Linked DNA regions of Homo sapiens. The protein of the gene in region 1 interacts with the protein of each later gene in a pairwise test. Each region holds a gene or a part of one and is shown in the gene's direction. Other genes may lie near its edges.

Region 1 (3,500 bases):
ATGGGAAAAGGCTGGAGGGATGCGCTCTCCCTTTGCTCTGCTGAGGGATGGATGGATCACCACTCAGTCATGTATTCACTCAGAAAACAGACTGGGTATCCAAGGTGTGCTGAGCAGAGTATGAGGTGCTGCATTTACAAAGTCAAATAAAAGGCGGTTCCTGCTATCAGGGTAATGCCCTGGAGTTAGGGGAGACAGACATGGGGAGGAATAAAAGCAGTAAAAGATGGTGTTGTGAGGGAACCTGGGCATAGTGTGGTGGTGCTAAAAAGGAGACGGTGCTCAGAAGAAGCTCCGCTGAGAATTCAGATTGTCAGAAAATTAAAATCTCCTGCTGGCCTCTCCCCATTGTTGTAGGTTTGGGCTGTGGAGGTGAGCAGAAGGTGCCTGTCTTTACTAAACAGCCAGGATGGAGGAATCCTGACAGTAAGTTTCTCCCAGGGAAATCCAGAAGCAGCTTCCATTGTTCTTGTTTTGTTTTGTTTTGTTTTGTTTTATTATCAGTGTAATCTTTTTGAAGTTGCCACCTTTGAGAATCTGCTGACTCTGAGATATGGTGTGGATATACTATTCAGAATAATGTACACAAGCACATAAATACCAGGTTTTGTCTACAGTTTCAGAGATTTGGTGACCTCCTTGCTGTGTCCGTCATCTGTGGATCCCCTAGAGTCCAGGAACCCAACTTAAGAATCCCCCTTCCGTATGGTCTGAAATTTAACCAGCTTAGATGATATAATCGATCCGATCTGTCCTATTTCAAAATATCCTGTGCAAATTGGACAGATCAAGTGTCCAACTTATTTAGAATCCCTTTTTTCCATAAGAAAAAAAAAAAGCCAAGCCCATATTTTAAGCCAGTGATCCTAGAGGTTGTTTGTGCATAATAGTTTTACCCTCTTTTTAAAATATATGCTGAAATGGCTTTCTCAATTCTGTGTCTGACATTTGAATAAGAAAACTGAGAAAGGCCTATATGTTAGCACAGTGCATCAGGAGAAGAATATTAGTATGATTCAAGAGGCTATTTGCCATCACCCTAGAACGTATTCTTCACTCACATTAAGTGATCACCCGTTTTTCTCCCTGTCAGGGCAGGACCCTAATGGCTAGGGAAGCAATTAGGGCCACATCTAGGGTGGGTCTGGGAAACCAGCCTTTCAAGGGTTGCAGACTGAGGACTGCCTCCACAGTTTAAAAAATGTTCTGAGTAGATCCAACATACCCTGTTTGGGGGTAGCACTCTTTAAACGTCCCCAAAGTCAATTCAGACAGGATAGGGCAAAGGTTTTGTGCGTGTGCATTTTCACAGACGGGGCATCGTAGCTTTCATCAGATCCTCAAAAGAGGTCTATGACCCCCAAAGTGGTAAGCACCACCGTTTCCGGATGGTCCAGACCTAAAGGTGAGCCTACACTAGTGCCTGAGTAAACCTTTAGGAGAGCTCTTGGGCCAGATTTCCCCAGCATTCCTTGTGTGCCACGTTGGGTGCTTCCCAGCTTGCTGAGCAGAGCAGCAGCTTCACCATGGGCATCTGGTCCTTGTCTAGCACAGTCTCCACTGTCTTGGGCCTGAAAGGGGATCCGTGGTGTCAACTATAGCAAAATTCTAGGATCTTTAGGAAGCAGATTAGGGAAACAAGATTGATAATACACAAGTTTATCTTTTCTCCCTCTGGAGACCTCATTAAAATGAGATTAAAGCCATTGGGGGGGAACAAAAAAAGTAGAGACCTACGTTGACAGTGAACAGGCAATGGTTACCAATAGGTAAGTAATTTTAACAAGTTTCCTGAAGATGGAGAACAGCTGCAAGGGTGGTAATTAATGAGGCAGGGCTGAGGAAACCTTTGTATGGAGTACAAATGGAGGAACACGTAGCTGGGCAGTAGCAGGTTTGCCTTATAATACCCTGGAGAGGATGAAGATTTCAAAACTCCCGATACAACAGAGAGCAGAAGTACAAGGCAGTGGAGCTGCGTTTGCTGGCAGGCATCTATCCTCCAGGCATAAAATCAGAACACTTTTATCTCTAAAGAACTGAAAAACTGGAGAAAACATTTTTCTTTCTAGTATACGGGGGTGCCACCTCTATATCTTTCCATACTTCTGATAAACTTCCCATAAACATAGCATGCCCAAACATATTTTCTTGCTTTTTTCATACATGTGATTGGGCAGGTAAAGGGTCAACCAGACATTGCAGGAAAGCTACACACATAAATAGGAAAACCAAGATAAACATAAAAATTGATCCAAAAGAAATAGAGATGATATAGGAAACAGAAGAAAAAAATAGTAACTATCATTTGTATCCTGAGAAAGATTTAAGATAGTTATATCCATAAAAGAGTAACAGCTTGGCATTTATTTAAAAAAAAAAAAAAAGAAAGAAGAGCCGGGAAATAAAGTAAATGAACTATCCCAGAAACTAGAACAAAAGACAAAGATTCGAAAAGATAAAGATAAATGACACAGAAGACCAATCCAGGAAATCAAACATCTCCTTATAAAGGGCCTGCTGATATCAGAGCTCTGGGAGGAATCACAAGGGAGAACTTCCTTTCTCAGAGTGGAACTGGTTGATCCTGTGTGAAGCTGAAATAATATGGGCCTCTGGGTGGCAAGGGGCTATGATTACAGCTCCTTGACAGCTTTATTAAAAAGAACAGTGCTTTCTATTATTTGGCCATCATATTTTTTATATTTTGCTTCCAATATAATGATTGCTTTTGCCTCACCAAACTCCCCGTTAGCTTTTAAAGGTTGTCAGCATTTCTGAAAAGGACATTTAATTATCCTCTTTCTGCTGTACTCAGAGAGCTGCTGGTGTTCTGAGCCGGACCCTTTCTTCCTCTCTGAAAATTGTTGAGGAGGCCTTGCGAGCAGGAGTGGTAAAGAAAATGATGAAATTCCTGAAGGTAAGATCACTTTATTGGTTACAACCCCTGAAATGTACAGAAGTCTCCTATTTTATTCGGGGAACAGAATTAAGGTGGGCTTTGTTTGGTTAATGTGCTGCCATTTCTTCCTTGCTAGATTTTAAACTTCTTGGATAGGGATTTGCTTCTGCCTGTCTACCCAGACCATACTCTGAACATCAACAACAGATTGTTGAATAAATAAGAAAATTGTTCATTAGATACATCTATAAAACCTGCTTACCCCTCAAGCCTGACTTAAAAATATATGGCCACTGTTCTTGATAAAAATGATCTGAGTGGCTTTCTGTAACGTTTCTCAGGCACATTGTTCTGCTCAGGTTTTGCTACTCATGATGCTTTATACAGTTATCTGGAGAGTGTTGGATGGAACTCCATCTATGAGACATGTAGCCTGCAGAATTACCATGTGACCAAAGGATGTTGGGATTTCCCTGTGAGATGAGTGTGGTGAATCTAAGCAAGCCAGTAGAGCAGTTATCTGGATTCACCTGCAAGGGCGAAGGGGATTAATACACTAGGCTGCCATCTCAGAATCCCACCTATGATGTGTGTGCCC
Region 2 (2,578 bases), about 36 Mb from region 1:
ATGTTGAAGGTATGGCCCAAAGTACAGCCCAGTGAAAGTGATTTGGGAAAGGACCAAGCTACTGAACTTTTTACTGAATGATTAGCATTATTGGATTTGAGGATAGAACAATAAATTCCTAGATCAATGCTCCTAAAATGCAGTATTGCGATATACTACTGGGTCATGATCTATTAATACCTTCCCCAGAGGTAATTATTATTCTGATTATCACCATGGTTAGGCTTACCTCGGAAGAAATGGAATAATACAATATGAACTTGCTTGTCTGGCTTCTTTCCCTTAATGTGTCTGTGAGATTCAACCCATTTGTCAGTGTACCAATTACTTATTGTATTGCTGTGTAATTTTCTGTATAGTATTATATGAATATAACACTATTCATTTTTCCATTCTCTTGGACATTTGGGTTCTTTCTGGTTATTGGCTATTATAAGCAAATCTTTTATGAACATTTCTGTGTATGTCTTTTGGTGGCTATACAAACTAATTTCTCTTGGGAATATACCTAGGATTGGAATTACTAGAGTATAGGTAGATGTATTTATCTGTAAGTAGATGCTGCCAAACAGTTTTCCAAAGTGGTCTGTTTTAAGATGTCCTTCAATTTGGGGATGATCAGAAGCTTTCCACACAGCACCCTTTACAAACAAAGATGCCTTTATGTCTTGTAATGGTTACTGGGGAAGAATGTTAAATAGTCATGTGTCTTTTGCTATTTTTCTCCTTTCTAGCATCAATTCCTGAAGATTGCCAAGCCCCTCTCCAGCCTCACTCCACTGATTGCTGCAGCTAAGGAGGCAACAAAGAACAATCACTAAAACCACACTCACCCCAGCCTCATTGTGCCAAGCCTTCTGTGAGATAAATGCACATTTCAGAAATTCCAACTCCTGATGCCCTCTTCTCCTTGCCTTGCTTCTCCCATTTCCTGATCTAGCACTCCTCAAGACTTTGATCCTTGGAAACCGTGTGTCCAGCATTGAAGAGAACTGCAACTGAATGACTAATCAGATGATGGCCATTTCTAAATAAGGAATTTCCTCCCAATTCATGGATATGAGGGTGGTTTATGATTAAGGGTTTATATAAATAAATGTTTCTAGTCTTCCGTGTGTCAAAATCCTCACCTCCTTCATAACCATCTCCCACAATTAATTCTTGACTATATAAATTTATGGTTTGATAATATTATCAATTTGTAATCAATTGAGATTTCTTTAGTGCTTGCTTTTCTGTGACTCAACTGCCCAGACACCTCATTGTACTTGAAAACTGGAACAGCTTGGGAATGCCATGGGGTTTGATAATCTGCCAGGGACATGAAGAGGCTCAGCTTCCTGGACCATGACTTTGGCTCAGCTGATCCTGACATGGGAGAACAACCACATTTTTCTTTGTGTGTGCTTCTAGCAGCTGTTCGGGAGGACCTTGACCCAATAGTGTTCCCATGCTGTTTCTTGTGAAATGCTCTCGGCTATGTAGCAGCTTTTGATTCCCTGCATACCCTAGGCTGCTGCCCCTATCCTGTCCCTTGTTTATAACATTGAGAGGTTTTCTAGGGCACATACTGAGTGAGAGCAGTGTTGAGAAGTCGGGGAAAATGGTGACTACTTTTAGAGCAAGGCTGGGCATCAGCACCTGTCCAGCTCTACTTGTGTGATGTTTCAGGAACTCAGCCCCTTTTTCTGCCTAGGATAAGGAGCTGAAAGATTAACTTGGATCTTCTAATGGTCCAAATCTTTTGGTCACAATAAAGAGTCTCCAAATTAGAGACTGCATGTTAGTTCTGGATGGATTTGGTGGCCTGACATGATACCCTGCCAGCTGTGAGGGGACCCCGTTTTTAAGATGCATGGCCAAGCTCTCTGCAAATGGAAATGCTTACACTGGGTGTTGGGGATGTTTGCTACCTCCTGCTATTTTTGTGGTTTTGGTTCTCCCACTATGGTAGGACCCCTGGCCAGCATTGTGGCTTGTCATGTCAGCCCCATTGACTACCTTCTCATGCTCTGAGGTACTACTGCCTCTGCAGCACAAATTTCTATTTCTGTCAATAAAAGGAGATGAAAATATTCTATTGGAGTATGCCTTTCTTTTTTCTCTTCGTTTTTTCTTTCCTTTTCTAATTTTTTATATGAAATAATGAGTAGTTTCTTCCTGAACCATTTGAGAGTGGTAAGTTGCAGATAGAATGCCCCTTTACCACTATATACCTGAATGTGTATTCTTTCTTTTTAACACTTTTATTTTAAATATAAATTAAGAGAAATGGGCCAAAACCATTTGTATTGTTTAAAGAATAATTATAAACACACTTGTATCCACCAAATCAAGAAATGGAACACTGACAGTAAGAACCTTCTCTATCTTGTCCTTCCTTTCTCATTATAGCCCCCACCTAAGAGGTAACCACCATCTTGACTTTTATTTAAATAACTTTCTTGCTTTTCTGTATACTTTCATCACATTCAGGTGTGTTCCAATACAAGTAGATTTTAGTTCGGCCAGTTTTTGAACTTTAAATAAACATATCATAATAGATATATTCTTTTGTGCCTGTTATTGTTTCCACTCA

The links. Proteins that work in one complex are often made in the same cells at the same time.
Region 2: the proteins of TTC12 (region 1) and PAK1 interact in binary tests that used the Homo sapiens proteins (3 or more experiments, as listed by UniProt).

Annotation. Positions count from the first base shown.
Region 1 is NC_000011.10:113,359,583-113,363,082, forward strand, and holds part of TTC12 (tetratricopeptide repeat protein 12), read left to right. Parts: intron 1-357; coding exon 358-426; intron 427-2,818; coding exon 2,819-2,920; intron 2,921-3,500. UniProt on the Homo sapiens protein: Cytoplasmic protein that plays a role in the proper assembly of dynein arm complexes in motile cilia in both respiratory cells and sperm flagella.
Region 2 is NC_000011.10:77,321,517-77,324,094, reverse strand, and holds the end of PAK1 (serine/threonine-protein kinase PAK 1), read left to right. Parts: intron 1-734; coding exon 735-821; 3' UTR 822-940; coding exon of another isoform or gene 941-958; 3' UTR 959-2,078; downstream 2,079-2,578. UniProt on the Homo sapiens protein: Protein kinase involved in intracellular signaling pathways downstream of integrins and receptor-type kinases that plays an important role in cytoskeleton dynamics, in cell adhesion, migration, proliferation, apoptosis, mitosis, and in vesicle-mediated transport processes.